Linked DNA regions of Homo sapiens: all the other regions are linked to region 3. Evidence: fine-mapped expression QTL. A gene starts in region 3. Each other region holds a variant in brackets. All regions are shown on one strand. Distances are from middle to middle.

Region 1 (2,766 bases), 320 kb after region 3:
CAATGGCAACAAAAGCCAAAATTGACAAATAGGATCTAATTAAACTAAAGAGCTTCTGCACAGCAAAAGAAACTACCATCAGAGTGAACAGGCAGCCTACAGAATGGGAGAAAACTTTTGCAATCTACTCATCTGACAAAGGGCTAATATCCAGAATCTACAATGAACTCAAACAAATTCACAAGAAAAAAACAAACAACCCCATCAAAAAGTGGGCGAAAGATATGAACAAACACTTCTCAAAAGAAGACATTTATGCAGCCAACAGACACATGAAAAAATGCTCATCATCACTGGCCATCAGAGAAATGCAAATCAAAACCACAGTGAGATACCATCTCACACCAGTTAGAATGGCGATCATTAAAAAGTCAGGAAACAACAGGTGCTGGAGAGGATGTGGAGAAATAGCAACACTTTTACACTGTTGGTGGGACTGTAAACTAGTTAAACCATTGTGGAAGTCTGTGTGGCGATTCTTCAGGGATCTGGAACTAGAAATACCATTTGACCCAGCCATCCCATTACTGGGTATATACCCAAAGGATTATAAAACATGCTCCTATAAAGACACATGCACACATATGTTTATTGCGGCACTATTCACAATAGCAAAGACTTGGAACCAACCCAAATGTCCAACAATGATAGACTGGGTTAAGAAAATGTGGCACATATACATCATGGAATACTATGCAGCCATAAAAAAGGATGAGTTCATGTCCTTTATAGGGACATGGATGAAGCTGGAAACCATCATTCTCAGCAAACTATCGCAAGGACAAAAAACCAAACACCGCATGTTCTCACTCATAGGTGGGAATTGAACAGTGAGAACACATGGACACAGGAAGGGGAACATCACACAATGGAGACTGTTGTGGTGTGGGGGTAGGGGGAGGGATAGCATTAGCAAATATACCTAATGTTAAATGAGGAGTTAATGGGTGCAGCACACAAACATGGCACATGTATACATATGTAACAAACCTGCACGTTGTGCACAGGTACCCTAAATCTTAAAGTATAATAAAAAATAAAAAATAAAAAAAAGAACTAAATGAAAACCAGATCTGTGGTGTTAAGTACTATACTTGCAATATATGCTAATGACTCAATAATACTGTCTCACTTCACATGATATAAGCAAATCACACTTTGTGGTAATAAACTATTAGTAGAGACCAACTAGTTGAAGTATAAGCTTTATGCTACTTTTTAGATACACAGAGGTGTCTTTAGAATAAAGTTTAAAATATTTGGTATCATTTGTCCAAGGAAAAAATATGTAATGATATTAAGTAATAGGGCATAAAGAAGAGTAAAAGAAACTTACCAGGCAGATAAAATAGGAAGGACAAAGAAATGGTATACTTAAACATAGAAATTATCAATAATAAGACTAAATGTGTTTAGGAGAGCTAATTAAAAGACAAAAATATTAGACTGAATTTGAAAAATATACAACTATGAGCTTCATGCAA[G/A]AGATACAGAAAAAAAAAACACAAAGAGGAATGTTAAGTTACCAGGATGAAATATAAAATGTATCATGCAAATACCAATCAGAAGAAAGTTGGTAGATTTACATTAATAGCAGATGTGATAGTTTTGTTTGTTTGTTTGTTTTGGGTTTTGTTTTGTTTTGTTTTTGTGGCAATGAGGGTCTCACTTCATTGCCCAGGCTGGTCTTGAATTCCTGGCTTCAAGAGATCCACTCACCTTTACCTCCCAAAGTGCTGGGATTATGGGGAGACATGATAGTTTTTAAGGCAAACAAACAAAAGCTATAAAAATGATAAAGCAGGTCCCTTCATTAGGAAAAAGTTTATTTCTTCCAGTAAGATTGTTAATTTTAAATTTATATGTACATTAATAATAAAATGTCATAAGATATAAAGTAAAACCTGACATTATTATAAAAAGGAACAAGGAAATTCACAATCATAGTGGAAAAATTAACACATCTAATTCAGTAATTATAGAGACACCAGTATAGATCTAGAAGTATACACAAAATAATTACAAAAAAAGTTGTAGATATATTCATGAACCATAAAAAAAGCTGTTTAATATAATTGAAAATAATTTTATAACATTTTAAACTTACTACTTACAATGAAAACTCTCATTTCTGGTAGCTTTAAGATTTTTAGTTTCAGATTGGATTCTTGAAACTAAAACCATGTCCTCAGGCAATTGTGGGGTTGTAAGAGTCTCTGAACAGAAAAACAGATCTATGATAAAACTTCTGTATATGTCAAGTAATCAGCAATACTTCCTCTCATTTGTGTAAAATTAATGGAATAGGACTAGGAAGTTACAGCAGTGAGGTATTCGTTAAAATAGACCGTGGATGCGAAGCAGAAAATTCTCATGTGTGGAGGCAATCTTGTTACATGGTAGTCACTGACTATGCAAATACCAATCAAAAGGTATTAAAGCTTTCACTTTAGTTCTCTAGTTATTTTGCAGTATTCACATTTAGGTCAAAGTATAAAATTTCTACAAATTATATGTTCAAATATTCATGATGCAAAGAAAAAAGACCTCTGATGAGTTAACTTAAAATAGTGTGAAGGGCCAAGTGCAGTGGCTCACACCTGTAATCCCAGCACTTTGGGAGGCCAAGGTGGGTGGATCACGAGGTCAGGAGTTCGAGACCAGCCTGATCAACATGGTGAAACCCCGTCTCTACTAAGGATACAAAAATTAGCCAGGCATGGTGACGTGCACCTGTAATCCCAGCTACTCGGGAGTCTGGGGCAG
Region 2 (2,766 bases), 25 kb before region 3:
CTCAGGAGGCTAAGGCATGAGAATCACTTGAACCAGGGAGGTGGAGGTTGCAGTGAGTCCAGGTTGAGCAACAGCACTCCAGCCTGGGCAACAGAGCAAGACTCTGTCTCAAAACAAACAACTTTCCACTTTGTTCATAATAGCAATATATGTTCATTACAGAAAATTTAGAAAATAGAGAAATACAAAGATGAATATACAGTAAAGGCATAAATCAGCTATATTCCCAATCCTACAACCCAGAAATAATTCATTCTTTCTCTCTCTCCCCTCCCCCCAATTTCTCTCTCTCTCTTATTCTACATGTATCCCATTAGTATACTTCTAGTGGTAATTAAGAGAAAACCTGGACTCAATATGCAATTGGTTTAAACTATAAGAAAAAATTAGCTCACATAATAAGTTTGGAAATAAGATGAGTTATTTAGCTGGACAACTCATCAAAAGTCAGTCTTCAGTTACTCAACAAGGAACTAGAATTGAGACAATTTTAATATTCCTTAAATGCTTTTATGAAGACAAAATGAAAATCAGTCAACAATATCTAAATAGTTAAAAGAAGCGAGTAAATCCAGCAAATCAGCCGTAGTGGAAACTGATTTGCAGTGGGTGGGTGTTTGTTGAACTGGCTCTTGGTCACTGACCTGCAGCCTCCAAGGCTAATAAGTCAACAGATCAGCAGATCAATCAGCTGGGGCCTTTGCATTTTTCCACATTCCCAGGCCTGTCAGCTCAGCCTCAGGCCTGGCTGCATGGTGGCTTTATCACATGTAGAGTCTAACATTTAATGGAAGCATGACTTTGTTTCCTGCTTTTAAAGATAGAGGGAAGCTTTTCCTAACATTTAATGGAAGCATGACTTTGTTTCCTGCTTTTAAAGATAGAGGAAAGCTTTTCCAGAAGCCTCTCCACTCTCATCCACCTCACTGGCCTGGAATGAATTATACTCCCCGGACTCAGAAGATCACTAGCCAGGGGAATTCACATTCACCACTCACTGATGATTCACTCCCCAGGGCAGGGCTGGTGACTGCCTCCCCTGAAGCACACTGCTGTGCAGAGAATAGAAAGCCCACCAAAATTAAGAGGTGTTAGGAAGGAGAAGGGAAGTGGTGTGGGTAGGAAGTCAACAGTTTCTGCCACCATATCTTTTTGACTTAA[A/CACA]TTTAAATTTCTCCATGTCCATATATAGTTTTTGAAAACATGATTTTATCTGAAAACATAATTGCATGAAAGCATCAAGTTTATTTAACAAGTTCCCTACTGTTAGGCATTTAAGGCAATTCAATTTTTCACTATCATCAACCACTTAGAATTTTGCCCTAAAACTGCCAAATTAATGTCCCTAAATCCATTGACTTGAGTCATGCTGTTTCTCTTACTGAATAAGTATTAACATTTACGGTTGAAGATGACTTTAACTTTGCTTATATGTCATCAGTGAATCAATACATGAATTTTCAAGAAATGCTAGATTTGTCCAATACATACATATGTCCTTTTCCAATCTTTATTATTAGCTTTTATGTCTCCTCACTTTCCCCCTGTCTAGAAGAGCTCTTGGCAAATTCATTTCAAGAAACCTTTGCTGATAATTTTGCCAGGTCCTATAAGGACCCAATCTCTGCCTTCAGGAGCTTATAATTTAGTAGTTTTTCTTGAATTAGCTCTCAGTAGGCAGATCACTTAAGGCCAGGAGTTCGAGACCAGTCTGACCAACATGGCAAAACCCTGTCTGTAATAAAAATACAAAAATTACCTGGGCGTGGTGGCGCATGCCTTTAATCCCAGCTACTCGGGAGGCTGAGGCACAAGAATCGCTTGCATCTGGGAGGTGGAGGTTGCAGTGAGCCAAGATCGCACCACTGCATTCCAGCCTGGGTGACTACAGAGTGAGATTCTGTCTCAAAAAAATAAACAAAAAAACCCACAAAACTCTCAGTAGATAAAGATACGTAGACGACCAGGACTGTCTGATTCATACATCTGTTTAATATTTACTGAATATCTATTATGTGCCAGGCCCAGATCTAGAATCCAGGGATGGCCAGGCACGGTGACTCATGCTTGTACCCCCAGAATTTTGGGAGGCCAAGGTGAGAGGATCACTTGAACCTAGGAGTTCGAGGCAGCAGTGTGCTGTGATCATGCCACTGCACTCCAGCCTAGGAGACAGAGCAAGACCCTATCTCAAAAAAATAAAACAGACTAGAATCCAGGGGTGCAATGCTTTTAGGGAACTTAGTAATATTCTTAGGTAGTGAGAAAGAAGCCCAAGTGAATCTTTCAAGTTGTTCTTCCTACCTTTTATTCTCAAGCCCTTTGTCACTTAGAAAGGAAACATCTGGTCTTTTCTGCCCTTATCTGAATCCTTTTGAGAGAATAATTCATGTAGATTTTCTCACCTTTGGCCTTGTCACTGTCGTCATAGATAATGTGGCTATTTCAACAAAGGGCTAGGCTTAGCCAGAGAATGTAATTTTACAAACTTTATTTCCTGATGCAGCCTGCAGCTCACAAACAAGGCAGGAAGTGCTGCTCACAGTGAACTTGGCTGGCTGTGGCTGCAAATAAAATGGGAGCCTTCAAACATTGCTGACCCAGCGGCCAGATCCTATTCCCTGGGGTCCTGGCCCTACCAGGGCATGAGAGGCCGCAGAGCAATGGGCTCCGAATTAGGACTTTGTTCACTTTGGAAGTTGAGGGATAGAATATCCCCCTTACAAATGGGAATTTAAGTGTAAACAGCTCTGTACTTTCCCAGGTGAC
Region 3 (2,766 bases):
GTTGAGTTCTAATGGCAGTTTGACCATTGAGATATTAATATAGGAACATCATTTAGCCTCTTAAGCTTGAACATCCATTAAGTGGGAAAAATAGTGCTCATTTCCTAGAGGTCTTCAGATTGGCTAATCAAGTTTTGATTTTGCTGGTAAGTAATGAGCAAATTTTCTTAGATGTGATCGCTTCATTTTCTCTTATATTGATTGGCAGCAGCCAAATGGGCATTCCAGTCCCTAATCTCCTGCAAGAGAAACACTTCTATTTCATAAATCTGGTAATTTTTGAGCTCTTTTCCCAACAGGGTGCTGCAGCTCACCAAGCGGAACCCACAGCATTTTCTGCTACCAGGATAGCAGCTTGCCAGTAGCATATACTAAATTACTGGGTTTCAGTATGATTTTGGCTGGTACAGACTTCAATCATCGAATCGACATGCGTTCAGCCATTCTCATAATGAATGTTTCCTTCTCTTTCAAACGTTGTTTCCAGCCCCAATCTCCAAATTTTTTTTTTTTAAGAGGTGAAACAGAAACTGTACTCCTTAGGAAGAAACTTTTCCTTCTCATCCCTGTTCCCCATAAAGGTACCTCCAGATAAATCTATCAAAAGCAGGACGCAACTCACCAGGTTTTCTAAAACGTTCCCCAGTCTCACCACCCTTCGTGACACCCATGGGTTTCCCAATTCTTCACCTTTCTCTTAGACACAGGCAAGCACATTATCACTCCAGAAAAGCAGTCCTGGCTTAGCCAGTTCCCTTCCAGAAGGACCACGTGGTTTTTGGCCCCATGGAGCCCTGCAGGGTAGGGGGGCTCACGGTCCCGATTTGCCTCGGGACTCAGGGGGCTTCCGAGATGCAGGATCTCCCGGGCTCGAAACGGGACATCAGTGGACAAACGGGAGCGAGGGTCGAACGCGCGGCTCCGAGGAAGAGGAACTTAAAGAACACGGGCCCAGCAGGCTACACCAGGAACGCGCGGGGCTCTAGGGCGCGTCCGACTCCTCCCGCCCTTCGCAGAGGAGGAAACTGAGGCACGGCGACTGTCTCAACGCAGTCCCGGCCCTGCCCCCCGCGGCCTCCCTCAGGCGCGCTCCCGCGCAGCCGGTTCCTTTGTCCCGGTCGCACTTCCTGCCCCATCCTCCGCCTCCTCCTAGCCCCGGGCCGGGCTGACGCGGCGGGAGAGGAATGCGTTTCCGGAGGGAGAGGGCGGCGGCGGCCTCGGGAGCGGGATCAGACGCGCAGAGGAGGCGGGGCCGCGGCTGGTTTCCTGCCGGGGGGCGGCTCTGGGCCGCCGAGTCCCCTCCTCCCGCCCCTGAGGAGGAGGAGCCGCCGCCACCCGCCGCGCCCGACACCCGGGAGGCCCCGCCAGCCCGCGGGAGAGGCCCAGCGGGAGTCGCGGAACAGCAGGCCCGAGCCCACCGCGCCGGGCCCCGGACGCCGCGCGGAAAAGGTAGGGGCCGGCGGGCCTCGGGTGTGGGAGCGCGGGCCGCGGCCTCCGGTCTCCTGTGCGCGGCAGCACTTAAAGCCGCCGGCCGGGCCGCGCCGGGACCTTTGTGCCGGGCGTGGGGGTGGGGGCGGGGGCGGGGGCGGGGGCGGCCGCCAGCGGTTGGGGGCTGGGGCAGGATTCCAGGCTAGTCCAGGAGGAAGTCCGCACGCCGCCACCCGCCTCGGGTCCCCGGCGCTGGCAGCCCCCGGGCGCAGAGCCAGCCCAGCCGCGTTCCGAACGTGAGGGTCGCCGGCCTGGGCGCTGTCACGTCGGGGCTGCCGGAGCTGCGGGGGACCGGGCCCGAACGGCCCCTGACACCTGCGGTCTCCCGCCGGGCTGGGCAAGCGCAGGTGGGAGCCAGCGAGGCCACCCGGGGCTCGGCGTTTGGGACTCGGCGCTCCCCTGGACGGGTCCGGTGCCTTTGTCTCTCGCTCCCTCGCGAGCTGCTGTCCTTGGAGCAGCGTCGAGCCAGCCGTCGGCGCCCGCGACGGGGACTGGTCTCCTCCGGCTGCCAGGAGGCGGCCCTGGGGCCAGCGCCGCGGGCGGGGGCGGCGGGAGCCGGGTAGAAGTTGGCTTAGTGGAGCCGCTGGGGACCGGGGGTGCGGTGGCGGCAGTGCAGTCCACTTCCCCGTGTTTATAAACGTCAAGAGTCGCCGGTCCCTGCCGGGCACCCCGGGACCAGGACGCATGGCCATGGCCAGCTTGTGCTCAGACCCGGTCCGCGAGCCTGAGAGCCCGGCCTGTGTCTAGTATCATTTTACCGCGTGTCATTTCTTAGGCTTCATAAATTGGATTTATGAGACTCCTACTCTCTAAGTAACTTTTATTTAATCAAATTCGTGCTTTTGAGTCCAAAACTTTGCACTCATTGGTATGATCATTAGTAAGTTGCATTCTCTAAGCTTCCGTTTCCTCATCTGTGAAATAGGAACAGTAATATCTACATTAATAATTCATTTTTATAATAATGACAGTGAGGGCCAAGTTTAGCTCTAGGCATTTTACATGTATTATTTAATTCTGGAACCGCTCTAATGAGATTGGTACTGTTTCGATTCCCATTTTCCGAGTGAAGAAACTGAGGCACAGGGAGCAAAAGTAAGTTGCCTGTGGTCATCAGGAGCTCCTGGAGAAGGCATGGGGTCTAGTTCCAGAGTCCGCGTTTAAACCACAAGTAACCTTCCTAACTATAGTTCTGAAAATCAAATGCAAAATGTAAAAAACTTAGCTTGAGAGTAGATGCTCAATGAGTATTGACTCCTTTTCAGCCCTTCTTTTATA

The links. PIP is the estimated chance that this variant, and not a neighbour inherited with it, causes the effect.
Region 1: its variant is fine-mapped to the expression of ITGB1 in whole blood (TOPMed, PIP 0.95).
Region 2: its variant is fine-mapped to the expression of ITGB1 in whole blood (TOPMed, PIP above 0.99).

What each region holds. Positions count from the first base shown.
Region 1 is chr10:32,634,507-32,637,272 of GRCh38, reverse strand. It overlaps CCDC7 (coiled-coil domain containing 7), which reads right to left. Exons shown (of 44, transcript NM_001395015.1): 21 at 2,115-2,216. Among named protein-coding and RNA genes, the nearest start is that of CCDC7, 190 kb to the right of the region's middle. The variant G/A (reference allele first, on the strand shown) is at 1,485.
Region 2 is chr10:32,981,676-32,984,441 of GRCh38, reverse strand. ITGB1-DT (ITGB1 divergent transcript) reads right to left here and starts at 1,891. Exons shown (of 3, transcript NR_184020.1): 1 at 1,757-1,891. The variant A/CACA (reference allele first, on the strand shown) is at 1,162.
Region 3 is chr10:32,956,828-32,959,593 of GRCh38, reverse strand. ITGB1 (integrin subunit beta 1) reads left to right here and starts at 1,364. Exons shown (of 16, transcript NM_002211.4): 1 at 1,364-1,449. RefSeq lists an enhancer at 792-841 and silencers at 1,012-1,591, 1,662-2,111, 2,505-2,666.